Regions from separate parts of the Homo sapiens genome. Here all the other regions are linked to region 3. Evidence: fine-mapped expression QTL. A gene starts in region 3. Each other region holds a variant in brackets. All regions are shown on one strand. Distances are between the middles of the regions. Region 1 holds the start of ZNF587 (zinc finger protein 587). Region 2 holds the start of ZNF776 (zinc finger protein 776). Region 3 holds the start of ZNF671 (zinc finger protein 671). Region 4 overlaps ZNF154 (zinc finger protein 154).

Region 1 (8,107 bases), 120 kb before region 3:
CCCAAGGCAGCTGCCTGAGTCCATCAGACAACCTCGCTCTCATTAAATATATATCATTCTTTATACTGTACAGACACATGCCCATGGCCACCCCCACCAGAGTTTCCCCAACCTTCAGCCCCTCTCTGGCATCCCCAGAAGTAAAAGTTTATTTTTGGGGGATTTTTTTGAGACATAGTCTAGCTCTGCCACCCAGGCTGGAGTGCAGGAACACAATCATGGCTCACTGCAGCCTCCGCCTCCCAGGTTCAAGTGATTCTTGTGCCTCAGCCTCCCAAGTAGCTGGGATTACAGCCATGTACCACTACACTCGGCTAATTTTTTTTTTTTGAGACGGAGTCTTGCTGTGTCCCCCAGGCTGGAGGGCAGTAGCATGATCTCAGCTCAGTGCAAGCTCTGCCTCCCAGGTTCAGGCCATTCTCCTGCCTCAGCCTCCCGAGTAGCTGGGACTACAGGTGCCCACCACCACAGCTGGCTAATTTTTTGTATTTTTTTTTTTTTAGTAGAGACGGGGTTTCACTGTGTTAGCCAGGATGGTCTCGATCTCCATACTTCCTGATCCACCCACCTCAGCATCCCAAAGTGCTGGGATTCCAGGCTTGAGCCACCATGCCTGGCCTGTATTTTTTTTTTTTAGTAGAGACGGGGTTTCACCATGTTGGCCAGGCTGGTCTTGAATTTCTGGTCTCAAGTGATCCACCAGCCTTGGCCTCTGAAAGTGAGGAGATTATAGGGGTGAGCCACCACACCCAGCGCCTACAAATAAAATTATTTCACAAGATGAAGAGGGTATAACGGCCCATGATTCCCTTGGGAATATGCAATGGTTTGTTTCCATAACTCTGCTGGTAGGGATGGAATTGAAACCCACCACAAAATATAACAACCTGGAACCCTGCCTTATCACCTTGATAAAACGGGCTGTTAGGCTAGGATACATTATTCAAGAGAGCAGAGTGGGAATGAGATTTGTACTCACACCTTTTAAGGTTGTCCCACTTTCACAAGATGTCAAAGTGACACATCATATTGGGCCTTCAATTCTGGCCTTATACCAAAATGTGGATAAGCATCCAGACTATGCTTGACAAATACAAATAGCATCCAATATTAACACAGAATTTCCATGGTTTACAATAGCAGTGGTAATCCCAAATCATCCTGTGAACGTCTCCTGGAATGACTCCATAGCCACACAGAACCACATATGGCTTCAGATAGCCATGGCCCTATTTCACTTTTGTGCTGCACCAGCTGAGACCTCAGCTGTAGCAACCCTCCTCTGTCCACCTAATGCCGTTTAAAGCCCAGCCCCTGGATTTGTGAACCAAACCACATCTACTATCACAGATGAGCATATTTTTCACTGCCCATATGCACCAGGCTGAATGAAACTCCCCAGGCACTCCCAAAGTCATCTCAAAATGTTTATGAGTCCAGACAGTGATAAATAGTTACAACTGGCCAGGCACAGTGGCTCACGCCTGCAATTCCAGCACTTTGAGGCCGAGGCAGGCAGATCACCCGGTCAGGAGTTCAAGACTAGCCTGGTCAGCATGGTGAAACCCTGTCTCTACCGAAAATACAAAAATTAGCCTGCTGTGGTGGCAGGTGCCTGTAATACTAGCTACTTGGGAGGCTGAGGCAGGAGAATTGCTTGAACCCAGGAGGTGGAGGTTGCAGTGAGCCGAGATGGCACCATTGCACTCCAGCTTGGGCAACAAGAGCGAAACTCCATCTGAAAAAAAAAAAAAAACAAAAAAGTTACAACTTTGGCACCAACTCAGGCCTAAGTGTCATCTTCCCTGAATTACTCCTGTGCTTCTGCATGCATCTATCTCTTCTCTATTATCTCTTTGGATGTCTATGTCCCCTTCCAAACTCTACTGTATTAAATGTCCTGTTATGATGGTCACTCACACCCTCTCAGGTGTTTAGGAAGCCCAATAACATCAATTGAGGACGTAAGTAAGAGATCCAGTCCTCAGCCTGTAATCACACCTTTCTGCCCCCTGAAAAGATTTACCACCATAATCTGAAGCATGTCCTCCTAAATGGACCCATAACTAATCATAGTTCACTCATTAGCTTTCATATATTGGATGTCTCCAGTATCAACACCCTCCCAGATACCCCATCCAGTATGTCTAGTTATCGATTTGATGCCACCACTTATTGGTCTCTGATTCTTCATATGGCCAAAACAACCCTCTGGATATCCACAGTGAATATTATGTCAATACCAACGTCATCTCAGCTGAAGCAGTGTGCATGGTTACAGCTGCTAAGATCAAAAACCTTGGGCTCATGCCCGATTCCTCTTTCATGCTCCTATCATCCACATTAGAAAATCTAGCTGTCTGCAAGGCATGGTGGCTCGTGCCTATAATCCCAGCACTTGGGGAGGCAGAGGCCAGCGAATCTCCTGAGGTCAGGAGTTTGAGACTAGCCTGGCCAACATGGTGAAACCCCGACTTTACTAAAAATAGAAAAATTAGCCGAGTGTGGTGGTACATGCCTGTAATCCCAGCTACTCAGGAGGCTGAGGCAGGAGAATCACTTGAGCCCAGGAGGTGAAGGTTGCAGTGGGCTGAGATTGTGCCACTAGACTCCAGGCTGGACAAGAGAGTGAAACTCCGTCTCAAAAAAAAAAAAAAAAAAAAAAAAAAAAAAGCCTAGCTGTCTCGGCTGGGCGCATTGGTCCATGCCTATAATCCCAGCACTTTGGGAGGCCGAGATGTGACGATCACTTGAGGTCAGGAGTTCGAGACCAGCCTGGCCAACATGGTAAAACCTCGTCTCTACTAAAAATACAAAAATTAGCTGGGCATGATGGTGGGTGCCTGTAATGCCAGCTACCTTGAATGCTGAGGCAGGAGAATTGCTTGAACCTGGGAGGCAGAGGCTCCAGTGAGCCCAAGATTGCGCCATTGCACTCCAGCCTGGGCAACAAGACTGAAATTCCACGTTAAGAAAAAAAAAAGAAAACCTAGCTGTCTCTTTACAAAAAGTGAATCCTGAATCCAGACCCATGTGATTTACCACTTATCTGATCCATTAACCCTCACCTGGATTATGGCAGGAGCCTTATCTCTGACCTTTCTTCCTCTTCCCTCAACCCACAGTCTATGCAACAAGGTCCAGCCAGATGAAGCCTGTAGCCAGGTAGAACTGTGGTAATATCACCTCCTGACTTTGATCCGTTTTATCTCTAAGCATTTCACAACCTGGTAGCAAATCCTGGGTTAATCTTACAAGGGTGTTTACATTGGTTGACAGAAATGGGAATACCTCCATATAACCTGTCATGGACTTGGTATCCTGGCTTCAGAGATTCTCCAGGGTCCTCGGATCAAAGGACTGAAAAAAATGGCACTTAAGAGTCCCAGGACACCACAAGCTAGAGAACCTGTAGATGGCGTCAGGACCAATGAGGGAATGGAACACCCTCCACTTCCCTGTGTGGGTTCCCTAAGTGCTTCTGCAGCCAGGAGTGCCTGAGGGGAAAGGCAGACATTACAAACATGTCACAGGATTTGATAAGCTCAGGACTCCCTGAACCCTTTCTTGTCCCTGGAACCAGGTAACCCTAAGGCTGGTTGTCTGACCTGCTTTTCTCAGTGCAAAATGTCATCTCTACCATCTATGTGATCTACAAAACGGATTCAACCTCCCAAGGCCCCAAAGTCCTCATCCTCTCTCTCTATGATGTTCTTCCTTTGATTGGCCTTTGGGAAACTTCTTAAAAGCCTGGATTTGGATCATGTCCCTCCTTTCTTCAAAACTCTCCATGGCTTCTAGAATCCTCATGATGAATGCACAGCCCCTGGCCTGCTTGCTCTACCAGGAAGAGCTCCATCTCACACGTTGTTCCTGACAGATGCCTGTGAACCCCAGGTTCCATCCTTCCAGCTCTGTCCATCTGCAGGCCATTGCCTGCACCCCTACCTGTGCCTGTCACTCTCCCCACTGCATCCCACTGGTGTCAGAAACAGGTGAAACCGACTTTGCAAAATTATAACTGACGAAATTATGACAGTGAAAGAAATCAGACCTAACCGACTCCATCTTGCTTCCAACCTTTCAGCCGTCTTTTTTCATTCCTGGGCATAGGCTGAATTAACTTTGGAAAAGAATTCAGTTCATGGTTTCACTCTGAAACAAAATTGATAATAGCCCTTTCCTGAAAAGACCCCTTTCTTGCCTGGGGACCAGCCTGTCTTTGCAGGACTAACAAATTAGCTACAAGAATAGAAATTACGGTTTAGGGGTCATGCAGCTTCTGGCTCCAAGAGTCTGAACCTCCCCAAGTTGCTCCTGAAGATAACCTTACTATTGTAAAACCTAATGTGAGTTTCTGGGGTGCTAGTTGAGTTGGTCTCCCCTGTGTGAGACACCCATGGGAAGCCATGGGCGGCCTCTGAGGAGAAAAGTCTCCTTATTGCCTTCATGTCTTTATGCCCCGAGAGCATAACTCTTCAGCAGCATTCC[A/G]TGGGTTGCTCAGGGAGATCACACTCCCTTGAAGCAGTGGAGCATAATCAAACATCTTGGCTCCTCCTGAAACCCGCAGCCACCCGTTTCAGTTAAGTTAAAGATCTTAAGTAGTTTAGACACACGCCTTTGTTCAAGGAAATTCACAGAAACGGCCAGTGCTTTACATCTTATGGAATGACTCACGAGTTCTCCTTTACTGATTAATCCTTTTCCTGATCGCTTCCTCCCCCTCCAATCAGCCATAAGAACAAAGAGCTTGTAAACCAATAAACTGGGTGGAGCCCAAGAGCTCTGGGCCGCCAGGAAGCCTCCAATGCTCTGGCCACCTGGACCCGCCTTTTAAATGCGTATTCTGTCTCTTTCTAACTCCTTTGTCTCCGCAGGACTCGGGGTATCTGCTGGGTGGTGTGGGGCTGGTTTCCCCAATATCTAAGATCAGTGCTTGGGGCATTTTGCAGATCCTGCACTGGATGGATCAGCGGACAACACACAGACCGGTAATCTGGGTCAATCAGTTCTGCCATCCCACCCAGAACAGAAAACAGCATGAAAAACTCACTTTAACCCCCTATGAATCCATCTCCAACCAGACTGATCAGCACTCCCCACTTCCCAAGCCCCTACCCGCCAAATTTTGAAAACTCTGATCCCAGAATGCTCAGGGAGACTGATTTGAATAATAAAACTCCTGTCTCCCGAACAGCAGGACGGCTCTGCGTGAATTACTATTTCTCCATCGCAATTCCCCAGTCTTCATAAATCGGCTCTGTCTAGGCAGCTGGCAACGTGAACCCACTGGACGGTTACAAGGAGAGGCCTCCTGTGAGCGCCTCAGTGTTCCTACGCCGGGTACCGGCTACAGACCCACGAGCAGGAGCCGCTCCCTCGCTGGTTTAGGACCTGGGTGACGATGGGGTGACCTGAGGGCACAGAAGGCACCACAATTACCTGAGTTGGGCGCCTCGGCACAGCCGCTGCCATCGGACTACTTGGGGAAGCACGGCCCGGGAGCAGTGGTCGCCGTCACGGGGCTGCAGAGCCGCCTCTGGGCACCGAGGACGATTCCTCTCCACCTTCTAGGTTCAGTCACCGCGGTCCCACCCAGCACTCAGGGGCCACAAACTGGGGAAACACCCGCATCGCCGATACACAGCCGCTACTAGAGACCCCGGAAGTCTCGGCCTTACGTTACGTGCACACGTGGAAATGCCTTCTTTCCGAGTGCTCACTGGCTCTGACCGGCTGTCGTTTAAAGCAGAGCTTTCTGGGTAATGTAGTTCCCCACTTTCCATGACACAACATGGTTACCAGGTTCTGAAATGTTCATGGCTCAGATGCACCTCCAAGCCTTTGTACCTATTGGTTCCTCTACCTGTATTACTCTAGCTGGGGTGAAGCCTGTAATACACAGCATTTACCTGAGCTAGGTCCCTCAGTGTGGCTGCTGCCATCAACTGTGGGTGGAGCAGGCATCACCCCAGCCAGTGCCTATGAGCCTCAGACCTGCCACTTGGGAGCAGAGATGACTACTCCTCTTGTGCCTTCTCAGTCCCAACCCAGTACTCCCTGGCCTGACAAGCATGCCCAGAAATCCCTCATCCTGGGCCTTGCAACTAGCGCCTTCTGGGTAAAGTACTTCCCAGAGCTCTCAGCCAACAATGGTGGTATCCTCCAAGAGCAAACCGAATGCAGACCATGTTACATTCTGAGGGCTGCTGGAAAGCCCTGCTCACACCTCAAAGGAGGAAGATTATTGATTCTTTGTAAAAGCATCAAATAGGTATCACATCAGACTCTAGGAAGCTCATCCTGCACCCAGAGAATAAAAATACTATTTGAGATGCTCCCAAACTTTACTTATCTAAGTGGCCATATCATTGGCATCATTCAGACTTACAATGTGTGCACTCAGAGCTGAGAACATTAAGTATTGATTGCTCTTTAAATTCACGTAGACTGAATCATTACAGTCAGTTTTGCGAGTTTCATTGTTTTGTTGGGAACAAAAGAAAATTCTCCATAAGACATGATGACAGGATGGGTACAAAAAACAGTGAGCAAAAATGAATAAGACCTAATATTTGCTACCATAACAGGGTGGCTATAGTCAAAATAATTTAATTATATATTTAAAAATAACTAAAAGAGTATAACTGGACTGTTTATAATACAGAGGATAAATGTTGAGGTGACTGAGACCCCATTTACCCTATGTGATTATCACATATGGCATGGCTACATCAAAATATCTAATGTAATCTACAAATATATACACTACTATATACCCACAAAAAATAAAAATAAAGGCCAGACATGGTGGCTCACACCTGTAATCCCAGCACTTTGGGAGGCCAAGGCAGGTGGATCACCTGAGGTCGGGAGTTCGAGACCAGCCTGGCCAACATGGAGAAACCGTGTCTCTACTGAAAGTACAAAATTTTCCAGGCATGGTGCTGCATGCCTCCAATTCCAGCTACTCGGGAGGCTGAGGTAGGAGAATTACTTGAACCCTGGAGGTGGAGGTTGCGATGAGTCGAGATCATGCCATTGCACTCCAGCCTGGGCAACAGGAGTGAGACTCTGTCTCAAAAAAAATAAAAAATAAAAAATAAATAAATTGCTGGGTGCAGTGGCTCATGCCTATAATCCCAACACTTTGGGAGGCTGAGTCAGGTGGATCATGAGGTCAGGAGTTCGAGACCAGCCTGACCAATATGGTGAAACCCCATCTCTAATAAAAATAAAAAAATTAGCCGGGCACGGTTGCTCACGCCTGTAATCCCAGCACTTTGGGAGGCCGAGGTGGACAGATCATGAAGTCAGGAGATCAAGACCATCCTGGCTAACACAGCAAAACCCATGTTAAAAAAATTGCTGGGCATGGTGGCAGACACCTGTAGTCCCAGCTACTCGGGAGGCTGAGGCAGGAGAATCGCCTGAACTCTGGAGGCAGAGGTTGCAATGAGCTGAGATCGCATGACTGCACTCCAGCCTGGCGACAGAGCTAGACTCCGTCTCAAAAAAATAAAATAATAATAAAGATCTAATGACAGGGAAATAGACGGATGTTGGTACACCCTGAAGCAGGTAGTGAAGCTGGCAGTTGGCCACTGGTTCCCACAGAAAATTGCTCTAGTGATGCTAGCAAATCCCAAAATTGGGGCTCAATCCAGGAGGGTTCCTGGCTTCATAAAGGAAATAATTCAAGAGCAAGCCAAGAGTGTAAAGTGAAGGCAAAGCAAGTTTATGAGAGCAAGAGAACAGGAAAATGGCTGCTCCACAGACAGAGCAGGGCTACTCCACAGGCAAAGTAGCACCCGTGGATTGTTGGCTAGCTATATTTATAGCTACTCCTTAATTATGTGCTAAATAAGAGGTGGGTTATTCATGAATTTTCTAGAAAAAGAGTGGGGAGTTCCCAGAACCAGGGGTTCCTTCTCTTTTAAACTACATGAGGTAGCTTCTGGGCATTGCCATAGCATTTGTAAACGGCCATGGTGCTGGTGGGAGTGTCTTTTAGCATGCTAATACATTATAATGAGCATATAATGAGCAGTGAGGCAATGAGGGTAACTAGAGTTCATATTCTTGCCATCTTAGTTTTACTGCTTTC
Region 2 (8,107 bases), 23 kb before region 3:
TTCATATGCCCCAAACCCATTCAATTTCTGATTGTGTTGTGTTCCCTGGTGTAAGATATCTCCCAGGAGAGGGCCACACATTCCCCAGAGGTGGACCTTCTTGGTACATACACCTGTCCAATGTGTCCTGAGTGGGGACTCCTGTTGTATAGAAAGGGTCTGCTTAGAAGGTGTCTCGTCTTTTGCTCCATACCAACAACCTAAAAGAAATAAAATGCTGGTAAAATGCAAGGTACTTCCGAAGGGAAGTATTACTAAGCCATACCTGATCAACAGCTGCTTTGTTGTACTTATATTTACTTGGGCCTAGACATATCCTTTTATATAGCACCCACATGCTTTATGAAGGTCCTTTAGATGTTTGCACAGGAAGGAATTGCCTCTGCTTCCTGTAGTGCATGTATTGTTGGCTCCTTCACATCATGTGGCCCCCTACATTCTGTAATCATTCTAACCCAGTAATATGAAGAAGACTTATCTTCAACCTAAAGGCAACATTCTGTTTCTGCAATTATTTCCATGGAGTAATACCTCTGTTAGATACACTTGTTTGTGTGTCACAGGAAAATACGAGTACAACAAAGATACACTTGTTTGTGTGTCACAAGAAAATACGAGTACAACAAAGCAGCTGTTGGTCAGGTATGGCTTAGCAATGTGTACACACTTCCTAATACAAAATTGATATGCCAGTATTGGAGTCCACTGCAGATGGAAATGTGAGAAAAATGGGTCCAGGTGGGATCCAGAGATGTGAAGATTAGTCCTGGGCTGGCATCAGAGGAGAAGTGACAGGGTATAGAACGGTGAAGTCTGAAACTCTCAAGAATGGGGAAGACAGAAACAGCATATGGCTCGTCATGTTGCCAGGTAAATACTTGTGAAATCAGAGAGCTTCTAGCATGACTTTCCTAAATCCCTAATGTTATGTCTTCCTCCAGGGTGTTACTCCTCAGAGGTGGCCTCCCTCTGGGCCCATCATGCTGAGCCTGGGTTTAGCTGCAACTTCTGGATCACTGAGAACTCTCAGTCCCACTGCAAAGATATACATGGAATTTACATGAGACATGGATGACATAAAGAATAAGAGAAAGACAAGAGAGAAGAATAGCCAACCAACAGTTCAGAAAAAATCAGCACATGATAGCCCATAGGAAAGAAAACTAAATACTACAAAGATAATTTTTGGCCAGGTGCAGTGGCTCACACCTATAATCCCAGCACTGTGGGAGGCCAAACTGGAAGGACTACTTGACCCTAGGAGTTCAAGACCAACCTGGGTAACATAATGAGACACCATCTCTACAAAACAAACAAATGAGGCCGGGCACGGTGGCTCACGCCTGTAATCCCAGCTCCGGGAGCCCGAGGCGGGTGGATCACAAGGTCAGGAGATCGAGACCATCCTGGCTAACACGGTGAAACCCCGTCTCTACTAAAAATACAAAAAAATTAGCCAGGTGTGGCAGCATGTGCCTGTGGTCCCAGCTACTCGGGAGGCTGAGGCAGGAGAATGGTGTGAACCTGGGAAGCGGAGGTTGCAGTGAGCCGAGATTGGGCCACTGCACTCCAGCCTGGTGGCAGAGCAAGACTCCGTCTCAAAAAAAAAAAAAAAAAAAAAACAAAACCAAAAATACAAATGAACAAAAATTAGTTGGGCAGGGTGGCATGCTCCTGTAGTCCCAGCTACTTAGGAGTCAGGTGGGAGGATTACTTGAGCCCAGAAGGCTGAGAATGAAGTGAACCATGATTGCATCAGTAGACTGCAGCCTGGATGACAGTGAAACCCTGTCTGAAAAAAAAAAAAACAAAAAAGCAAAAAATACTCAGGGCACACTGGCTCATGCTTGTAATCCCAGCACTTTGGGAGGATGAGGTGGGAGGATCACGTGAGGTTGGGAGTCAGAGACCAGCCTGGGCAATACAGCCAGACCTCATCTCTATTAAAAATAAAAATAAAAATTAGTGGGATGTGATGGCAGAAGCCTCTAGTCCGAGTTACTCTAGAGGCTGAGGAAGGAGGATTGCTTGAGCCTGGGAGATTGAGGCTACAGTGAGCTATGACTGCAGCACTGCACTCCAGCCTGGGTGACAGAGTTAAGACTTTGAAAACAAAACAGAACAAAACAAAACAAACAAGATAATTTATAAGGAGGGTCTTGCAAGAACAACCTATGGTGCATGTAAGTATTGAGAACATCAGTGATGGGAGGAATTCCTAGCACAGGCAGTCATGAATAAATGTCACCTAGAGCAAGGAAGTAGAACCTGTGCATACCAGTCTCTGATCTAGAAAAATTACTCAACAGCCAGAGGGCAAGCAAGGTGGGATGCATTATGGTGCCTGTAAAGCTCCTTCTCTGGGAGCTTGCAGCAAAGCAGGTGTTGGGGCTGCTCAAGGAGAGAGAGGGCAGTGCACACACCTCAGTCCTACATACCACATAGAACCTACCCAGGGAACTAACAGAGGAACCTGTGCCCAGGCTCCTGAAGTGAGGAAAACAGTCTTGCCATGGGGAAAAAAGATGGGGACAGACAGACAATAGCTGAGGTCATAGAGAAGAGTGTGAGTGCCTTACCTAGAGAAGATATAAGTGTCAGGTTCTCCAGCATCACGTCATGATAAAGGCATCTCTGAGCCTCACTAAGGAGACTCCATTCCTCCTGGGAAAAGTTCACAGCCACATCTTCAAAGGTCACAGTGCCCTGCCGTGATGATGACAGATGAAACCACAAACACTCCATATGCTCATCCACTTATCCACCCTTGCCCTTCCTCCTCCCAAGGTCCTAAACTACAAGGAGAAACTAGGCCCACTGGTGTCACTATCTTCTCATGGGCTCACTGGTCATGGTGTACAGCCATCAGCCACAAGAAGTGGGTGAAACAATAGATTTCTATGTTTTGGTGCTGATATAAAGCGGTCCATAACTTCCTGATAGCCAATGCCCCTGGTAGAGATGAAGTCATGTAAATCCCAATGCAGCATCCTCAGTCTATCAGACATACTCCTTCTCTAAATACACATCATTCCTTTTTTTTGCTTTTTTTTTTTTTGAGATAGGGTTTCACTCCTGTTGCCCAGGCTGGAGTGCAATGACATAATCTCAGCTCTCTGCAACCTCTGTCTACTGGGCTCGAGTAATTCTCTGGCCTTAGCCTCCCGAGTAGATGGGATACAGGTGCATGCCACCGTGCCGGCTAATTTTTTTTTTTTTTTGTATTTTTGGTAGAGAGAAGGTTTCACTATGTTGCCCAGGTTAGTCTCGAAATCCTGAGCTCAAGTGATTCACCCACCTCAGCCTCCCAATGTGCTGGGATTACAGGCATGAGCCACTGTGCTAGGCCAAAATACACATCATTCTTTAGACTGCACAGACACATGCCCATGGCCACCCCCACTAAACTGCCTCCCACATTGGCCTCTGCCTCCCCACAAGTTAAAGTATGTTTATACCCTCTTCTTCCTTCTACCAGTAAGGGTGAGATTTTCACCTTACAGTTATATTAATGACCAAACACATGACATCAAACACTAGACAGGTGCTATAAATATGTTTAAAAATCAAATACACTCAAAGTCTAGAAGAGGACATCCCTCATCATGAAGGACCACATAGGGGTTGCACTATGGATAA[G/C]AGTGCATAACCAGAAACTATGATATGCAAGCTTTTAAAATGAAGAGGGTGTGATGACCCCCGAATCCCTTAGGAGGATGCAACTGGCTTGTTTGAATAACACTGTGGGTAAGGATAAAATTGAAACTCACTACAAAGTATAATAACCAGGAATTCTGCCTGGTCTCCCTAATAAAAGGATTATTAGGCCATGCTGATTATTATCTAAAAGAGCCTAGTGGGAAGGGAATTGGTTCTCAGGTCATTTGAGGTCATACCAATATCACTAGATGTCAAGGTGACACATCATATTGGGCCTCCATTTTTGGCTTTATACCACAATATGGCTGACAGCATCCAATATGCTTCACATATTCAAACAGGATCCAATAATAACACAAAATGACCATGGTTCCCATTAGCAGTGGTAGTCCCTAATAATTCTATGAATGCCTCCTTGCATTACTCCACATCCATGCAAAACCACATGTAACTTCAGATATCCATGGTCTTATTCCACTTCTGTGCTACAATGGCTTACCCTTCAGCAACACGGACCAACTTCCATTCACCTAATACCATTGCCATTTAAAGAGCAGTCCTGGATGGGCATGGTGGTTCACACCTGTAATCCTAGCACTTTGGGAGGCTGAGGCAGGTGGATCATGAGGTCAGGAGTTCGAGACCAGCCTGGCCAATATGGTGAAATCACATCTCTACTAAAAATACAAAAAAAAATTAGTGGGGCGTGGTGGCACGCAACTGTATTCTCAGCTACCGGGAGGCTGAGGCAGGAGAATCACTTGAACCTGGGAGGTGGAGGTTGTAATGAGCCAAGATTGCGCCACTATACACCAGTACACCAGCCTGGGCGACAGAGTGAGACACCGTCTCAAAAAAAAAAAAAGTCCTGTTTTTAATCCATTTAAGGCCCAAGACCTACTGTCACAGATGACCATATTTCTCCCTGAGCATATTCAGCACGTGTAATGAAACCCCCCACACACTACCAAAGTCATCTCAAATCTTGATTGCACAGAGTGGTGAATAAGTACCACTCTGGCCTAAGTGTCATCTTCCCTCAATTTGACTACACTTCTGCATATATCTATTTCATGTCTATTCTCTCCTTGAAAGTCTATGTCCCCTGTCAAATTATGCTGACAGGTATACCCTACCATCATGGTCACTTACCTACCTCTCCAGTGTTTAGGAAGCCCAGTAACATTACCCAGGGACCCAAGCAACAGATGCAGTCCTCATCATTCAACCACTGCTTTCTGGTCCCCTAAAAGATTTACCACCAGAATCTGAAGTGTGTTCTCCTTAATGTGACCCATGGCTCACTCACCATAGCATACACATTAGCTACCATATATTAGATGTCTCCAGTGTCAATCCCTTTCCAGATACCCCAACCTGCATGTCCATAGCCATTTGATGCCTACACTTATTCGTCTCTGACTCTTCATATGGCCATAACAGTCATCCTGATATTTGCATAATATTCTAATTATGTTTATTACCAACATGCTCATCTCAGCTGATGCAGCTTCCATAGCTACAGCTACTAAGACCAAAAACCTCGGGATCCTGATTGCTCTCTTCATGCCCTTACTTTGTGTATTAGGAAACCTAGATGCTGTAACAAAATATCAACTTTGAATCCAGCCACATCTCCTTAGCCATGAATCTTAGTCTGTTAACCCTCACTTGGATTACGGCAAAAGCCTCAACTCTCATCTTATTTCCTCCTCTCTCAACCCCACAGTCTGTTCTCCACTGTACAGCCAGAGGAGACTACAGCCAGATGAAACTGTGGCAACATCACCTCCTCCCTCTGGTCAGTTTCACCTCTAAGCATTTCACATCCTGGTACTAACTCCTGGGTTAACCTTCCAAGTATGTTTATACTGGTTGACAGAAATGGGAATACCTCCATATATCCTGTGTCACAGACTTTGGATCCTGGGTTTAAGGTTCCTCCAGGGTTCCCATATCAAAAAACTTAAAAAAAAAAAAAAAAAGGTACCTAAGAATCCCAGGACATCCCAATCTAAAGAGCATGTGGATAGGAGTTAGGGCCAGTGAGGGAATAACACCCTCCGCTTCCCTGCGGAGGTTCTGCAAGTGCTTCTGCAGCCAGGAGTTCCTGAGAGGAGAGGCACAAGCTACAAGAATGTATCCCTGATGAGATTTGATAAGCTCAGGCCTCCCTGAACTCTTTCTTGGCCCTGTAACTAGGTAAACGCGAGTTGGTTGTCTGAACTGAGCGCCTCAGTACAAAATGTCATCTCTTAGCACCTATCTGATCTGTAGAGGTTGAACAAGAATTCAACCTCCCAGGGCCCAAAAGTCATCCCCTGTGTTCTTTTTCGACTGGACTTTGGGAAACCTTTAAAGCCTGGACATTGATCTTTTCCTTCCTTTGTTGGAAGCTGTCCATGGCTTCCAGCGTTCTCAGGGTGAATACACGGTCCTCAGCCTGCTCTTCCAGGAGGAGCTCTGCCTCACACTTTGCTCCCGACAGGTGCCTGTGGACCCTAGGTTACGATCCTCTCGGCTCAGTTCATCTCCAGGCCTTTGCCTGCACCGCTCCCTGTGCCTGTAGCTCTCCTGAGCGCATCCCGCGGGTGTCAAAAACGGGGGCCCATAGAGAGCGCCTCAGTGTCCCGACGCCGGGTTCAGGGTGTAAAACCTTGAGCAGGCGCCGCTTCCTCTCTGCTTTTGGACTTAGGTAAAGATGAGGTGACCTGAGGGCACGGAAGACGCCACAATTACCTGAGCCGGGGGCCTCAGCGCGGCCGCCGCCATCCGACTGGGTGGGGAAAGCGGGGTCGAAAGGAGGGGGCGAGCAGTGCAGGTACCCGGGCACGGTGGTCCCGATCCCGGCCTTGGTGCGGGTCACGCCTAGCGCCTTTAAGGAGCTGCAGAGCAGCCTCTGTGCAGTCGGGACAACGTCTCGTCTCCACCTTCTGGGTTCAGTCACTTCTACACGACCCAACACTCCGCGGTCTCTCACTGGAAAATACACCCAACACCAATCAAAATGGCCACTAGTAGAGGACGCCGGAAGTCCCACCTTTATACTGTTTCCGCGGAAACGCCTTTATTTTGAGCCCTCATTGGCTCTGACGCGCTGTCATTCGACGCAGAGATTTCTGGGTTATGTAGTTTCCTCAGGTTCCAAGACAGTTCCAAGGCGGTAAAGAAGGCCTTCTCAGAGGCGCTTGATTGCACAGAGTGGTGAATAAACACTACTCTGGCCTAAGTGTCATCTTCCCTCAATTTGACTATACTTCTGCATGTATCTATTTCATGTCTATTTTCTCCTTGAAAGTCTATATCCCCTGTCAAACTATGCTGTCAGGTATACCCTACCATCACGTTCACTTACTTGCAGGAAAGGCCCAGCTCCATCTCAGCGGCCTGTCCTTAAAGTGCATGTCCTTCTAGGGTAGAGGATAGTCTCACCTAGCCTTAGAACCCGTATTGAGATTTTTGGAGATTAGTGTCTGTAACTGATCACTCAAGTATTTGAAAAAATATTATTTTAGATTTTGGGGAACTCGAGCTCTCCGATGCTAAACTTATTATTTAGGATGCCCCCAAAGACTAAAAATCCAAATTATCATAACGTTTTGAACAGTCTTTCAGTCGCAAAATCCCGGTACTGGCAGCAGAGGCTGATAAACATTATTGTGTTATAAATTCACATGAATGCACTCTGAGGCATTAGAGTCAGTTTCTCAGTCTGTCAGGGACAAGAGAGAACTAATCCAGATAGGACAAGACAAGGAAGATAGAGGAGAAATGTTGTGTTCCCTAAAGCAGGAATACATGCTGAATCTCTGTCTGTGATTCCCACAGAAGACAACTCTCCTGCCTATAAAATCAATCATAGTGTCCAGTACATTGAGCAACACTTTTATCCACTTAGTATCCCTCGCTTGAGATTCCAACTTATATTCAATTAATTCTGGATTAATTTATCTAAGATTTATCAATCTTACAGGAAGACCAATGAAAGAAATGCTATTTTGGTAGTGATAAATGGCTGCAGTTTTCAAAGGTGGGGCACGTATGCAGAAGATGCTCTCCACCTGTTGATATTGGTTGTGTCTTAAATCCAGGAGTTCATGTTATTGCTGGGAAGTGGCTATTTTTTTTTTTTTGTATTAGATAAAACAGACTTTATTTATTTCTTTTCTTTTTTTTTTTTTGTGACTATTCTTTATTTCTGTTTCCATGGCAAGGAGTGTTTTGCCTAATAAATTAATGTTATGGATGGGATTACAGGCATGAGCCACCATACCTGGCTAATTTTGTATTTTTAGTAGAGACGGGGTTTCTCCATGTTGGTCAGGCTGGTCTCGAACTCTCAACCTCAGGTGATCCACCTGTCTCGGCCTCCCAAAGTGCTGGGATTAAAGGCATGAGCCACTGTACCCAGCCGCTCAGTTCTTAAAAAACCTATGTCTTCTATGTT
Region 3 (8,107 bases):
TCTTTTTTTGTTGCATCTCTGCCAGGCTTTGGTATCAGGATGATGCTGGCCTCATAAAATGAGTTAGGGAGGATTCCCTCTTTTTCTATTGATTGGAATAGTTTCAGAAGGAATGGCACCAGCTCCTCCTTGTACCTCTGGTAGAATTCGGCTGTGAATCCATCTGGTCCTGGACTTTTTTTGGTTGGTAAGCTATTAATTATTGCCTCAATTTCAGAGCCTGGTCTATTCAGAGATTCAACTTCTTCCTGGTTTAGTCTTGGGAGAGTGTATGTGTCGAGGAATTTGTCCATTTCTTCTAGATTTTCTAGTTTATTTGCGTAGAGGTGTTTATAGTATTCTCTGATGGTAGTTTGTATTTCTGTGGGATGGGTGCTGTTATCCCCTTTGTCTTTTTTTATTGCATCTATTTGATTCTTCTCTCTTTTCTTCTTTATTAGTCGTGCTAGTGGTCTATCAATTTTGTTGATCTTTTCAAAAAACCAGCTCCTGGATTCATTGATTTTTTGAAGGGTTTTTTGTGTCTCTATTTCCTTCAGTTCTGCTCTGATCTTAGTTATTTCTTGCCTTCTGCTAGCTTTTGAATGTGTTTGCTCTTGCTTCTCTAGTTCTTTTAATTGGATGTTAGGGTGTCAATTTTAGATCTTTCCTGCTTTCTCTGGTGGGCATTTAGTGCTATAAATTTCCCTCTACACACTGCTTTGGACGTGTCCCAGGATTGTGGTATGTTGTGTCTTTGTTATCGTTGGTTTCAAAGAACATCTTTATTTCTGCCTTCATTTCGTTATGTACCTAGTAGTCATTCAGGAGCAGGTTGTTCAGTTTCCATGTAGTTAAGTGGTTTTGAATGAGTTTCTTAATCCTGAGTTCTAGTTTGATTGCACTGTGGTCTGAGAGACAGTTTGTTATAATTTCTGTTCTTTTACATTTGCGGAGGAGTGCTTTACTTCCAACTATGTGGTCAATTTTGGAATAGGTGTAGTGTGGTGCTGAAAAAAAATGTATATTCTGTTGATTTGGGGTGGAGAGTTCTGTAGATGTCTATTAGGTCCGCTTGGTGCAGAGCTGAGTTCAATTCCTCGATATCCTTGTTAACTTTCTGTCTTGTTGATCCGTCTAATGTTGACAGTGGGGTGTTAAAGTCTCCCATTATTATTGTGTGGGAGTTTAAGTCTCTTTGTAGGTCACTAAGGACTCGCTTTATGAATCTGGGTGCTCCCGTATTGGGTGCATATATATTTAGGATAGTTAGTTCTTCTTGTTGAATTGATCCCTTTACCATTATGTAATGGCCTTCTTTGTCTCTTTTGATCTTTGTTGGTTTAAAGTCTGTTTTATCCGAGAGTAGTATTGCAACCCCTGCCTTTTTTTGTTTTCCATTTGCTTGGTAGATCTTCCTCCATCCCTTTATTTTGAGCCTATGTGTGTCTCTGCATGTGAGATGGGTTTCCTGAATACAGCACACAGATGGGTCTTGACTGTTTATCCAATTTGCCAGTCTGTGCCTTTTAATTGGAGCATTGAGCCCATTTACATTTAAGGTTAGTATTGTTATGTGTGAATTTGATCCTGTCATTATGATGTTAGCTGGTTATTTTGCTCATTAGTTGATGCAGTTTCTTCCTAGCCTTGATGGTCTTTACAATTTGGCATGTTTTTGCAGTGGCTGGTACCAGTTGTTCCTTTCCATGTTTAGTGCTTCCTTCAGGAGCTCTTTTAGGGCAGGCCTGGTGGTGACAAAATCTCTCAGCATTTGCTTGTCTGTAAAGTATTTTATTTCTCCTTCACTTATGAAGCTTAGTTTGGCTGGATATGAAATTCCGGGTTGAAAATTCTTTTCTTTAAGACTGTTGCCTTCTTTAGAATATTTATTTAGGGTATTGTGACAAAGTCAAAAGGTGATGCAGGACAAAAATCATTATATGCAGGACATGTCCTGTATGTATAGGAATCTTGGAAATTTTATTAGTGATGTCTTTCATGCTACTAACACATTTGAAAAACACCTACTGAGAGCTCGTATGTGTTCCTTGGATGTGTATTTTAACAGTGAATTATCAAGACAGCACAACTTCACTGTTGATTTTTACCATTCTGATATCTTCTTTACAATTGCTCAGCATTTTCAGGAAAAAAGAGTCACATTTTGTTGACAAAGTGTGGTCAAGATCACAACACAACCATATGCTTAACTTCATTCTTTCACTTATACTTTAGTATTCAGGCTCAAACTTTACTGAGATCTTAACTTTGTCCATCTATCACAGATATTTCCTTAGAGCAATTTCTTTCATTATCTTCAAATAACTACGGAATCATTATTAATAGCTGTCAGGATTTTTCCCCCGGGGATAATCTCACCTCCTAACACAGACACCATACTTACAATGACAATGACAGGTTAAATGGTAATTGCACTGTGTTTTGCTGTGATGGAGACATCACTGATTACCCAGGCAGGAAGAGTTTTCTGAAGAAATCTGTCCACTGGTTTCAGGGAGACTCCACATCATCCCTCTTCCTTCTTCCACTCCAAGGCCTTGTTTGGAATATTTTCTCTTCCGTCTCTGACCAAACTGAAGCTCACAAAAGTTACTGTAAAGCTTGAGTGCACACATATTTAAAAAGCAACAAGGTAATAGTTATTAGCTTCTAGCTGTGAGTGTACGCAAAGAGACATTGTGGTGTGGTGTATCTATTTAGTTTTGCAGCTTTGGGGAACATCTGAAATGTCTCAACATTTCTGCGATCGGTGCATACTACACTCCAGGGAATCTAGGTCCAGGCCTTTTAAGAGGACAGAAGTCAGCCGGGCACCATGGCTCACTCCTGTAATCCCAGCACTTTGGGAGGCCGAAGCAGGCAAATCACAAAGTCAGGAGTTCGAGACCAGCCTGGCCAACATGGTGAAATCCCGTACTCTGCTAAAAGTACTAAAATTAGCCTGGCGTGGTGGCGGGCCCCTGTAGTCCCAATTACTTGGGAGGCTGAGGCAGGAGAATCGCTTGAACCCGGGAGGCGGAGGTTGCAGTCAGCCGAGATCGCGCCACTGCACTGCAGCCTGGGAGACAGAGCGAGACTCTGTCTCAAAAAAAAAAAAAAAAAAAAAAAAGAGGACGGAAGTCCTGTCAGCCCTTTGAAACTCGGGTTACTTTTCCCAAACAACTTGGCCCTCCTACTTCGAGTTTTCCCAAGAGCCCAGGCCGAGAATCCCCTGCCTTGAAGGATAGCTCAGTGGGAACCACACTCTACCCACAAACCTATACGTTGCATACCCAATGAGGGCCCAGGAGAGGGGTGTTTCAGTGCCTGCGGGGGGTGCGTGGGCGGGACTTCCGGCTCCTCCTTGTAGCGGACATTTTGTTTCTGTCAGGCTGTCCCTGGCCGGGGTTCTGTAACGCTTGTGTGGGCCGCAGGTGGAGGTGTTGGGAAAGCGCGGAGGAGATGTTGTCCCCAGTGTCCCGAGACGCGTCTGATGCTCTGCAGGGACGGAAGTGCCTGCGTCCCCGATCGAGACGCCTGCCGCTCCCGGCAGCTGTCCGCGCCCACGGTCCTATGGCGGAGCTAACGGACTCCGCGCGGGTGGGTGCTGCGTCCTCCGGGCCCTCAGTCACCCTTTCTCCGACTCCGAATCGTAAAGTGCCTGCAGCCCCTGTGTCCCAGGACAGCGACGCACTCTTGGGGCGGGGTCCTATCTCGGTGTGGGTGGGTGTGGGAGAGTTACGGGCGGAGGGGACGGCGCAGGTAAAGGCTCGGGGGTGCTGCTGACCCCCAAACATTTGGGAGACAGGGTTCTCATCAACACAGAGCAGAGTTTGAGGAACTGTGACTGGAATGGCAGGCTGAGAAGTTGTCGCTTCATTCTGAGGGCGTTGAGATTAACTGAGGGTTTTGAATAGAAGGACGTGATCTTAGCTGGGATTTTAAGTGTCTCGAAATTTGCTCAGGGGAGAACATTAGTTTGGGGTGGGGACTGCGAGGATGGATACGAGGAGACCGGTAAGGAGGCTACTGCAGTGGATTCCAGGAATGCTTTGGTGGTGGATGTACCAAGAGTAATGGCAGGTGAGTGGGTAGAAGTGATCATATTCTGGGTAGGTTTTAAATTTGAAACCAACAGGATTTTCTGCTCCATCATATGCAGCTATGACTGAAAGTAAGGCATGAAAGAGCAAGGTGTTTTTGTTGTTTTTCCATGAACGTTTGGATTTTGGAATGGTGACTTTGAGATGTCTCAGAGTGGAGGCTTCCTCACTTAGGCAACTAGAGAGGAAGGTCTGAAGTTGTGGGGAAGGGGCTGGGCTTAGAATATCTTTGGGGTGAAGGGAGCGGTCTGGAGTAGGTCAAGGCCAGGAGGTCAGATTTAAGTGGGGCAGTCTTAAGTATGTTATTTCATATCTCTGGGGTAAGAGATGAGAAGGCTGGGACTGCAGGGCAGGGAAGAGGGAGTGGGCATTCTTGAGACTCCCCCCAGAAGAGAAGGGTCCTGCCATTTGAAAGGGTTCTTTTCAGTGTTTGCAGGAGGAGAGAGCTGTAGGGTATGAGGAGTTTGGCCTGGGATGGCAACGATGGGTGGTGTGCTATTGCTACTATCTGATTATCTCACCCTCATTTTGTGTGTTTTCTTTTAGTTTTAGTTTATTTATTTTTTTTATTTTTTTTGAGACGAAGTCTCACTCTGTCGCCCAGGGTGGGATGCAGTGGCTTATTGCAACCTCTACCTCCCGGGTTCAAGAGATTCTCCCGCCTCAGCCTCCCAAGTAGTTGAGATTACAGGTGCCCACAACCACCCCTGGCTAATTTTAGTATTTATAGTAGAGACGGGGGTGGGGAGGTGGGAGGGGTGGGGTGGGGTGGGGAGGTGGGAGGGGTGGGGTGGGGGCGGGGGAGTGGGGGGGACGTTCACCGTGTTGGCCCAGGTGGTCTTGAACTCCCGACCTCAACTGATCCACCGGCCCCAGCCTTCCAAAGTGTTTGGATTACAGTTGTGAGCCACTGCACTTGGCTTTGGTTTTATTTTATTTATTTATTTTTTTTTTGGAGACGAGTCTCGCTCTGTCACCCAGGCTGGAGTGCAATGGTGCGATCTTGGCTCACTGCAGCTTCTGCCTCCCAGATTCAAGTGATTCTCCTGCCTCAGTTTTCCCAGTAGCTGGGATTACAGGCATGCATCACCATGCCCAGCTAATTTTTGTATTTTATTAGATAGAGTTTCACCATGTTGGCCAGGCTGGTCTCAAACTCGTGACCTCAGTTGATCCACTCCCTTCGGCCTCCCAAAGTGCTGGGATTACAAGAGTGAGCCACCATGCCTTGGCCAGGTTTTGTTTTGTTTTGTTTTTTTGAGATGGAGTCTTGCTCTTGTCACCCAGGCTGGAGTGCAGTGGCGCGATCTCGGCTCACTGCAACCTGTCTCCTGGGTTCAAGCAGTTCTCCTACCTCAGCCTCCCGAGTAGCTGGGATTACAGGTGCCCACCACCACACCCCGCTAATTTTTCCATTTTTAGTAGAGACGGGGTTTCACCACGTTTCCTAGGCTGGAGTGCAGTGGCACAATCTCGGCTCACCGCAACCTCTGCCTTCTGGGTTCAAGCAATTCTCTTGTCTGCCTCCTGAGTAGCTGGAATTACAGGCACCCGCCACCACGCCCAGCTAATTTGTTTGTATTTTTGGTAGAGACGGGGTTTCACGATGTTGGCCAGGCTGGTCTCGAACTCCTGCCCTCAGGAGATCCACCCGCCTCGGCCTCCCAAAGTGCTGGGATTACAGGTGTGAGTCATCATGCTTGGCTGAGACCCCATTTCAAAAAAAAAAAAAAGTTCACTACTTCTCCCAGTCTTGCCTAGTGTAGTAGAAGGATCTCACGAATCCATCTGGCCAAAGATTTAAGGTGCTTCTCTAATCTTTGTGTTTGTCCAGAATGCTGTCTCTGTTTTTGGTAACTCTCTGGAACTTAGGATGTACTACATTCTGTCATTATCCTAAGGCCAGAAGGTAGGAACCAGACTCTTTTGATGTAGCTGGAATGTGTTGAGGGTGTTGAATGTGTTCCAGTTTCTTCCGTTTTCATGATGCAGCTGAGCATGGGTATTTATCTCCTGCTGCCTGCATTAAGTTAGTTAGAGATCTGTGTCAAATGCCTAAAGTCGGCCAGGCGCAGTGGCTCACACCTGTAATCCCAGCACTTTGGGAGGCCGAGGCGGGTGGATCACGAGGTCAGGAGATCAAGACCATCCTGGCTAACATGGTGAAACCTTGTCTCTACTGAAAATACAAAAAATTAGCCGGGCATGGTGGTGGGCGCCTGTAGTCCCGGCTACTCGGGAGGCTGAGGCAGGAGAATGGTGTGAACCTGGGAGATGGAGCTTGCAGTGAGCCAAGATCGTGCCACTGCACTCCAGCCTGGGCAACAGTGCAAGAATCTGTCTAAAAAAAAAAAAAAAAATTGTTATGTGTCTTCTGACTGCCTCACTGACCAGCTGATCCCCATCCTTCTCCCTCTCTTTAAGCGTTCCTATTCCCTGACACACAGCAATATTGAAATCAGGTCAGTTAATAACCCTACAGTGGCCTCTAAGAGTTCAAGTTAAAGGAGTAGTTACACATCTCTCACTTTAAATCAGGGGTGTCCAATCTTTTGGCTTCCCTGGGCCTCCAGCACTAGGGGTTGCATTTCAACATGAGATTTGTAGGGGATACACATCCAATCCATATCAAACAGTGGTACAATGTGCAACAAAGAAATGGAAGAGGGTTGAGGATACCTGAGATCTGCATGTGGTTTGAGGTGCCTGTGATTGAAAAAAGGAACAGGGCCAGATTGGGAGGCTTTCAGAGCAACAATAGGGCTTTCCTTGGCAATGGGGCCATTGATGGTTTGGAGCAAGATGGGATACTGATTGTTGGCAAGCACTTTTTTTTTTTTTTTTTGAGATGGAGTCTCACTCTGTCGCCAGACTGGAGTGTAGTAGCATGATCTCAGCTCACTGCAACCTCTGCCTCCCAGGTTCAAGCAGTTCTCCTTCCTCAGCCTCCCAAGTAGCTGGGACTACAGGCACACACCACCATGCCCAGCTAATTTTTGTATTTTTTTTTTTTTTTTTTTTAGTAGAGACGGGGTTTCACCATGTTGGCCAGGATAGTCTCGCTCTCTTGACCTCGTGATCTGCCTTCGGCAAGCACTCTTAATGCTATGTGTAGAGTGACATTTGGGGAGTCCAGGGAGATGGGGTGGGCCAGTAGGGTGGGGGGGAAGCTGGAGATGTGAGGGAGACATAGTCCAGAGTGATGTGTATGAGAGGAGGGAGTGTGAGCTGACGGTCCTGTGACTTGGGGCTTAACTGAGAAAAATGAGCCTAGGTTCATACCTGGGATTTGTGATCTTGGGTACCCCAGGGGAGTTGGCTGGCTCAGAGTGTAAATGGCATTTATCTGTCAGCCTGTCTGTTGTTGTGGTGGGCTGACACAGTGATTGCTGGGGTGATCAGGAGAGAGTGAGGATCAGTGGTACTAGTGCCTGGTATCTCTGACTTGGGAACCTGGGAGGTTAGTTAGCAGGATGTTGTGGGTAGGTAGACTGGGGATCATTGGTCAAGAGACTTTTTATGGTCCTTCCTGTCCCTTTTGTTGCAGGGCTGTGTGGTCTTTGAGGATGTGTTTGTATACTTCTCTCGGGAAGAATGGGAGCTTCTTGATGATGCTCAGAGACTTTTGTACCATGATGTGATGCTGGAGAACTTTGCACTTTTAGCCTCACTGGGTAAGGTCCTCATGCTTTTCTGCCTTTACCACTCTGTTCTTCCTATGGTGGGATCATGAGCACCGCTTCCTTCACCAGTTTCCTGGAGTAGGTGCTCAAGATGCCAGGGCTAAGCTGTATGGAGTGTCCTCCCTACTTGCTGAGTAGTCCTGAAGCCGTGCAGCCAAGGGTTTGGGGTCATGAGACTTGTGGTTTGCCCAGTGGATCTCACTAGGTCTGTTCGCTTTCTGTACTGGTGACTCTGTCCAAAATTATGATGCCTCTGTGCCCAAGGTTCTGTCCCTTTCTCCAGGTGACATTTTCTTTTCTTTTTTTTTTTGAGTCAGGGTCTGGCTCTGTTGCCCAAGC
Region 4 (8,091 bases), 29 kb after region 3:
GGAGAAAGTCCTTGAGTACACAGTGAATGTCAGAAAGCTTCAGCTGAAGGCCATATCTCATTGAGTGCCACACAGTTCACAAGGGAAAGACACTTTTGATATGTAGGGATGTCCAGTTGATATAACAGCTCTGAAGGAGATCCCTTATGAGGGTGGCATCAGCCTGAATTGAACATCCTATATCTGAACATCTGCATAAATTCCAGGTATGTGTGAACTGCATTGCACCTTTTGCCCTGCCCAGGGCCCATGTCAGATTTATGTCTCTGCTGATACTATAGTGGAAGCCATTTTACCTCTACTGCCTGGCAGGTGACCACCAGTGTGCACCACTCACCCATCCCAGTGTATTCAGGTAAGTGAACCTTGGTGTTCTGTTCATGGGAGGAATTTGTAAATAGCCTAAGCATTTATTCCGTTTTTTTTTTTTCCTTTCTGATGAGTTAGGCCATGGACCTGACCCAGTTTGGCCCAGAGGACTCTGCTGGTGACCTGAAAAGAGGGACTACATATTTCAGGATATTGTTGGTCTCACATGACTCTTGATAGAGTTTGCCAGCCTTCAAATCACCAACTGTGGGAACCAACTGCCTCTTATTGCCTTGGTTTGTACAATAACAAAGGCCTTATTAATCTTGGGGGTTCTATATGTATGGGTTGGTTTGAAAACAGTTGGGTTCTGCTAACATGAAGGGGTGAATAACTTTTTTTGGAGATCCCAAACATTGTGTAGCTCAACAGGGACAGGGACAGGGACAGTAGGATGGCAGAATATAGCTCTCTCTCTAGTTTGAGCCTAGTTTTCATTGCTATTCAAGGCCTCTGAGAAAAAACTACAGGGTATTGTCCTAATTTATATCCTGGATGCCATAGAGGTCAGCCTGAGGAGGCAGCAGTTACTTGACATCCTTTGATGTTTCTGAAAGCAACATGAAATTGTTCTCTTGTTCACAAGGAATACTGCATCGTGTTCAGTGCCAGTGGGGGAAATCTGTTCCCCAGGTCCTGTATGCCTTGATATCCTGAATTCCACAGGGTAGCACCACAGGTGGTAAGATTATAGTAGGAATTATAATTGTTATAGAAGTACTGGATTGATAGAGAGTGGAAAACTGCAATAACACTGCAATAAATAGAATGTGCCCCTTTTACAGAGGTTTCCATGATGTTCGTTATTATGGCTCTTAAGGATGAGCAGGTACAGAAATCCTCAGGACCTACAGAATTGTGTATCTTGTGTAGCTGAGGTCATTGTCAGAAATTTTATGGAATCCTGTAGCCTCTGGGATTTTCACCTCAAGGTCATTGCTATGCAGGCAGGAAAACAAGGATAGAGAAGGGAGGTCTAGGCCATTGATACAGCCTTTGTGATCCAGCCAACATTTCTGTTGAGTCAGGTGGAAATGGCCTTCACTGTTCACTTGTATTTGTGATCACTGAGGCAAAATCCTCTCCCAGGACATGAGGAGAGAGATGGTGGAATCAACATAGGGTTGTCAAACCTGATTTTCCAAAAACAATAGGAAATTCAGACTTTTATTTTGAACCATATTTTGTTAGGTTGGTGCAAAAGTAACTGTGGTTTTGAACCATGATTTATTTTTATTTTTATTTTTTTTTGAGTCAGAGTCTTGCTCTGTTGCCCAGTCTGGAGGGCAATGGCACTATCTCAGCTCATTGCAACCTCCGCCTCCCAGGTTCAAGCGATTCTTCTGCCTCAGCCTCCCAGGTAGCTGGGATTACAGGCACCCGCCACCACGCCCATCTGAGTTTTGCATTTTTAGTAGACATGGGGTTTCACCATGTTGGCCAGGCTGGTCTTGAACTCCTGACTTCATGTGATCCACCCACCTTGGCCTCCCAAAGTGCTGGGATTTACAGGCATGAGCCACTGCGCCCAGCCAAGCTTTTTCACCATTCCAATTTCCTTCAAATGCTGAACAGCCGTGGAATGGTTGACATTGAGTTCTTAGGCAACTTCTCATGTAGTTGTAAGAGGATCAGCTTCTAATATTGCTCTCAATTGGTCATTGTCAACTTCCAGTGGCTGGCCACTACTTCTCTTCAAGGCTCTTGTCTCCTTTGCAAAACTTCTTGAACCACCACTGCACTGTACATTCGTTAGCAGTTCCTGGGCCAAATGTGTTTATATCGTGAGTTGTCTCTGCTGCTTTACGACCCATTGGGAACTCAAGTAAGAAAATCTCAGCCGGGTGCGGTGGCTCACGCCTGTAATCCCAGCACTTTGGGAGGCTGAAGTAGGTGGATCACAAGGTCAGGAGTTAGAGACCAGCCTGACCAACATATTGAAACCTCATCTCTACTAAAAATACAAAAATTAGCCGGGCGTGGTGGCATGTGCCTGTAGTCCCAGCTACTTGGGAGGCTGAGGCAGGAGAATCACTTGAACCCGGGAGGCAGAAGTCACAGTGAGCCAAGATCACGCCACTGCACTCCAGCCTGGACGACAGACAAAACAAGACTCCGTCTCAAAAAAAAGAGGCCAGATGCGGTGGCTTACACCTGTAATCCCAGCACTTTGGGAGGCCGAGGTGGGTGGATCACAGGTCACGAGTTCGAGACCAGCCTGGCCAACATGGTGAAACCCCGTCTCTACTAAAAATACAAAAATTAGCTGGGCATAGTGGCATGCACCTGTAATCCCAGCTACTGGGGAGCCTGAGGCACGAGAATTGTTTGAACCCCGGGAGGTGGAGGTTGCAGTGAGCCAAGATCATGTCACTGCACTCCAGCCTGGGCAACAGAGCAAGACTCTATCTCAAAAAAATCGCTGAAATTTGAGTTTTGTCTAACATTTCCATAGTCTAAAATAAACATAAACAGCAAGTAGTAAGTCAGCAAAAAAACATAAAGCGAGAAATGCCTATTAAAATGATGTATAACCACATTTATTTAAGAATGTTTTCCAATATAAAATGGCAAAATCCAACATGCAAAAACGGCAATTACTTTTGCACTAACCTGATAATAATTTTAATAAGAATAAATGGTACATATTTAAACTATATAATTTGATCAGCTTTGATATTCATATTAACCTGTAATTGCTCCCACCATGCCAATTTTGAAACTGCCAACATGTTACTGAATGTAGAATTGGGAAGAGTTGCTGATAGCATCCTAATATATTCTGTTTCTACCATACTGATACAGTGGCCACGAATAACCTCAAGAATGTAGAAAATAAAATGTAGTGAAATGATTAGGAAGAAGTTGTTTCTTCACAATCATGACAATGAACGTGTCATTCCACAAGTTACCTCATTGTCCTTTAATAATTATCTGCCTATAGGCAACTATTGATTTACTTTCCATTATAATACATTAGTTTTCATTTGCTAGAATTTTATATGATTGAAACCATAATGTATTTACTCTTTTTTAATCCCTGGGTATAGTCACGTATTTATTTTGAGATTCATCATTATACCTCTATGAGTAGTTTCTTTTTTTTGTATTGCTGAGAAGTATGATGTTCTGTGGATATACCAGTATTCGTTTATTCATTCATTCATTTGTTATGGATATTTTGAGTAGTTTTTTAAAGTAGTTTGAGGTATAATGGAACTTAAAGTGCTTATATTTAAAATGCATATTTTGATATTTTCATACATGCTTACACCCTGGAACGCAGTTTCCTTCTGTCTTTTTAGTTCATTCTCAACATATAAAATTAATTTTCATTGTGTAAAATTACTGGTACAATGACATATTTTGTCTCCTGTTACAGCTGTGTTCAATTACAAAAAAAGATGGAAAAGACTGTTATGAAGCCAGATGAACCTTTCTCCAGTCTTCCTTCACTATTTTTTTTTCCTTCACCATTTATCATTTCATAGTCATTTATGTTTCAT[C/T]GGTCCTCATGTGTACTAGTGCGTTATTTTACTTATACTCCCGGATATCATATTATTTAATGCATAGCCTCTTCAGAATGCAATTTTAAAATGTAAAGGCTCTTTTATAACCCCCCAAAAAATCACACAAATATATTTTAAAATGTAAATATTTTATCGCTTCTGTTTTCTCAGTTGTCTAAAACAATGTGTTTCTTAAGGAAGATCATTTTTATTCAGGATCCAAATGTATATTTAATAGCTTTCAGTAGTTGTATCTCATAAGTCTGTAACCTACAGGTTCCATTTACCTTTGTTTTCTTATTTCTTGAAGTTGCTGAGTCATTTTTTAATTAGAATTTGCTGTATTCTAGATGTGGCTTATTGAATCTCTAACATTGTTTAACTTGTACACTAGATGTTGATGAAATCGGTGATTGAGATTTTGTCCCAGCAGACAGGTGTGTGATGGCAACAGTGAAATAAATACAAAACCTTCTCCCAACCCAGAAATCCTCTCCACGAAGGTAGAGACAGAAAACGCTTTTATTAAGCATTAAACCAGAATGTGATGCACATCACAGACAATCCACTAAGAAATTGCAAGGTAAGAAAAAAGCCTCACTCCTTCATATGGCCTAGCAGATGTAGCCCATTACACACGTTTTCAAGATAAACAACAACAAGTCCTCAAATACGAATTTGACAGCACCATTTGTCACACATAGTTCATCCTAACAGGTGATGCTCTATTACCTTACTGGCTTTACCTAGAGGAAAAGCAAACATCATATCTTTATGACAGAGGATAATGAGGGGAGCTGCCTTGGGGCTGCTGGATGATACATCGGGACAGGACAGTGCGAGCTTCCAGCAAGGCAGCTCTAGTTGGAGCCCTGATTTCTTTCCAAGGTGAGGAGAGGGTGATGATAGTATCCTTGGGAAGGGGAGTGAAAAGTGCTGAGGGACTGTATTTATAGCTGAGGGATTTCCTGGGTGCTGTGGGTCTCTTGTCTTTGCCACTCTGCCTCAACACTGAAACTGTCCATTCCCTACTTGGAGGCTGCACCCAAAACCTCCCTCTGCCTTCATGCTCTGGCCTCCCCCTGCAAGTTACCACCCTGGGTCTTGGTGCTTGCAGCACTTCCGGTGCCTGGCTGCCCCAGGCCCTCTGCTCCCTCTGCTGCCTGGGTTTAATCCCTCCTCTGCCACTGCCCAGCATCAGGACTCTGCTGGTTTTGCAGCCTCTTGGTACCTCAGTTTTATGTTTGTGGAATAGGAGTGCTCACAGTACTCTCTGGGATCCTGGCAAAAGGTGTGGTAGGCAGGTGGTAAGCAGGGCCGAGCACTATCCCCAGCACCTAGTGAGTTGATGCCTTATCATTTACCTGATCCAGGCAGGTCTTAAGGTACAAGAGAAAGAGAAATGGGGCTTCTTAGAACCCCCTGACCCCACAGCTTCTACTTGGATGGAATTTTTGGAAGAAGCACTGGCTGCAGAGTCCAGAGATCTCAGTGTGAATTTCTGAAGGACTCCTTCCCAAGGAAGTGACCTTGAGAAAGTCCCCAACAACCCCTGTCAAGGACTTGACTAACAGCTTCTCTAATGTTTGTCTCCCTTTCCAATTTAAGAACAAATGGATGAAATCAAGTATGTGTCCCTAACCAATGACAGAGTAGGCCCTACTTGTAGTTAGCCTGCCTTCGGCTTCCTCAGACCCACAGACTCCAATTAGCACACCTAAAGCCTTCCCTTTTTTCTACTCTGAAGAATTCCAGCTGGGCGGCGCGGTGGCTCACACCAGGGACAGGGGCTGAGTGGGCTGGGGCGGGGCTGGGTTAGTGACTAGAGACCCTCTTTGAACCTCAGTGGTTGATTAGAATAAAACGAAGGGAAAAAGAGGCTGGGCTCGGTGGCTAACGCCTGTAATCCCAGCACTTTGGGAAGCCAAGGCAGGCGGATCACCTGAGGTCAGGAGTTTTGAGACCAGCCTGAACAACATGGAGAAACCCCATCTCTACTAAAATACAAAATTAGTCAGGTGTGGTGGCACATGCCTGTGATCCCAGCTACTCAGGAGGCTGAGGCAGGAGAATTGCTTGAACCTGGGAGGTGGAGGTTGCAGTGAGCTGAGATAGTGCCACTGCACTCCAGCCTGGGCAACAAGAAACTCCGTCTCCAAAAGGAAAAAAAAAAAAAAAAAAGGAATTCCGGCTGGGCACAGTGGCTCACATCTGTAATCTCAGCACTTTGGGAGGCCAAGGAGGGTAGATCACTTGAGGCCTGAAGTTTCAGACCAGCCTGGCCAACATGGCGAAACCCTGTCTCAACTAAAAATACAAAAATTAGCCAGGCATCGTGGTGTTCGCCTGTAGTGCCAACTGCTCAGGAGGCTGAGACGAGAATGGTTTGCACATTTCCCTGGATGCTGACAATCAAGACTACTACTTTCTTTTCTTTCTTTTTCTTTTTCTTTTTTTTTTTTGAGATGGAGTCTCCCTCTGTCACCCAGGCTGGAGTGCAATGGCACAATTTCGGCTCACTGCAACCTCCGCCTCCCGGGTTTAAGCAATTCTCCTGCCTCAGCCTCCAGAGTAGCTGAGATTACAGGCGTGCACCACCACGCCCAGCTAATTTTTGTAGTTTTAGTAGAGATGGGGTTTCACCATGTTGGTCAGGCTGGTCTTGAACTCCCAACCTCAGGTGATCTACCCACCTCGGCCTCCCAAAGTGCTGGGATTACAGGCGTGAGTCACCGCGCCTGGCCAAGACTACTGTTTTCATGTGGAGCTAATATTGACCCACTTCCTAAGGATTACCTCCTTACTTATTCCTTCTTCCCCCCAAAAAGAGTAGAGAGGAATGATCATTCCTGTCTCTTAATGTATCTGCAGTTCAGAGAGGGCAAGCAACATCCATACACGACCACAGCTGCCAAGGGTGGGAAAATATTTTAAATAGCCCATTTTCAAGGCATGATAAATCTAAGTACTGGCAGCCAGCCTGCAAATGTAACAAACCACACAGCTCATGCATCTAGAAGGTCACAATAGGTACACAGAATGTAGAGGAGGGGTCAGGCCATGAAAGGGAAGAATGTTTCATTATTGGAAATCAAAACTTAAGCAGGGAAGGGGACCGGGGTTTAACGTTATAAGGGGGATAATGAAACTTAGACGACATCTGGGAAGACTGTAACCTCATAGTACTGGACCAATGAGTATCTTGGAGGAGGGACTTGCAAGCAAGGAGATAAATTACCTGTTGTGACTACCCTAGATATGCCTGCCTACACCAGTCCCCTGATCTTGCAAGACTGTTACTGAAAGTCTCACTTTCGCTGTTCTTCGTGTCTTTTAGTCCATTCTTTGGGTTTGGATGGGTGAGTGTGTTTCTCACACAAGCAGCTGAGGTCTACGCTGAACTGGGTTGGCTTGCCTTGGTCCCTTTACTCCTCTGACTGGAAATGCAGGAGACTCTGGACAGATTCCTCTCTGCCAAGTCTGCTAAGCCCAGAACATGAGTAACCACACTGGGACACTGCCACCTGGGGCCTCAAGTCCTTCTCCACAAACTTGCTTCCCATGGTCAGCATTGCCACTGCCTGAACACCTCCAACAGGGTCCCTGGTGTCACTCCAAACACATCGCTCTCTCACAACCCCATGCAATGATTCATTCCTGGGGTCCTTTCGGTCTTCCATCTAAACACCACCATAGGATGCTTCCTCCACACCATACTGAACTGTCACTCAGTTATCAGTCACTACTGCAGACATTGGGAGAGAAGATGAAGAACTGAGAATGTCCAGCGTGACCATCGCGCGTCTCTGTACCCATGGCTTTTGCCTCCCAACCCCTGTAGCAGGTGTCCTTAGTCCCAACTGCTCCTCCCCAGCCCTGTGTAAAATCAATGACAGACAATGAGTACTAATCCCCTAGAGTGTTCCTTCTCCCACCTGTACTTGACCAATTACTTCTGAAACTGGCTGAATCTGGCTGAGCCCTCCTATAAAGCCCATAAACATCCTATTCTCCTGCTTAGGTCAAACCTGCTCACACGTGTATTTCCAGGTTGTGCTGGGGTATGAACCAGTTCCCTCATCAGTACATCATCTAGTATGCAGTGATGTGTGTAGGGAGTAGTAGTATCACATCAGGTTGTGCCTGCCTCATCACAATTGCCCCACAAAGATAGTGCAATTGTGTTTGTGGCCCACACATCAGATTTTTTTTT

Evidence for each region. PIP is the estimated chance that this variant, and not a neighbour inherited with it, causes the effect.
Region 1: its variant is fine-mapped to the expression of ZNF671 in whole blood (TOPMed, PIP above 0.99).
Region 2: its variant is fine-mapped to the expression of ZNF671 in whole blood (TOPMed, PIP above 0.99).
Region 4: its variant is fine-mapped to the expression of ZNF671 in whole blood (INTERVAL, PIP above 0.99).

The regions. Positions count from the first base shown.
Region 1 is chr19:57,847,407-57,855,513 of GRCh38, reverse strand. It overlaps ZNF587 (zinc finger protein 587), which reads right to left and starts at 5,655. Exons shown (of 3, transcript NM_032828.4): 1 at 5,443-5,655. The coding sequence starts at 5,475. It overlaps LOC124904782 (a long non-coding RNA gene), which reads left to right. Exons shown (of 2, transcript XR_007067358.1): 2 at 4,953-5,199. RefSeq lists enhancers at 4,014-5,213, 5,268-5,357, 5,408-5,647, 5,818-5,877, 5,948-6,057. The variant A/G (reference allele first, on the strand shown) is at 4,492.
Region 2 is chr19:57,745,384-57,753,490 of GRCh38, reverse strand. It overlaps ZNF776 (zinc finger protein 776), which reads right to left and starts at 6,676. Exons shown (of 3, transcript NM_173632.4): 1 at 6,400-6,676; 2 at 2,580-2,706; 3 at 1-200. The coding sequence starts at 6,432. RefSeq lists an enhancer at 6,615-6,664. The variant G/C (reference allele first, on the strand shown) is at 3,640.
Region 3 is chr19:57,722,866-57,730,972 of GRCh38, reverse strand. It overlaps ZNF671 (zinc finger protein 671), which reads left to right and starts at 3,349. Exons shown (of 4, transcript NM_024833.3): 1 at 3,349-3,582; 2 at 7,633-7,759. The coding sequence starts at 3,445. RefSeq lists enhancers at 3,003-3,052, 3,193-3,632, 3,150-3,650 and a silencer at 2,971-3,196.
Region 4 is chr19:57,693,502-57,701,592 of GRCh38, reverse strand. ZNF154 (zinc finger protein 154) reads left to right here. Exons shown (of 3, transcript NM_001085384.3): 3 at 1-5,318. Among named protein-coding and RNA genes, the nearest start is that of ZNF154, 12 kb to the left of the region's middle. The variant C/T (reference allele first, on the strand shown) is at 3,876.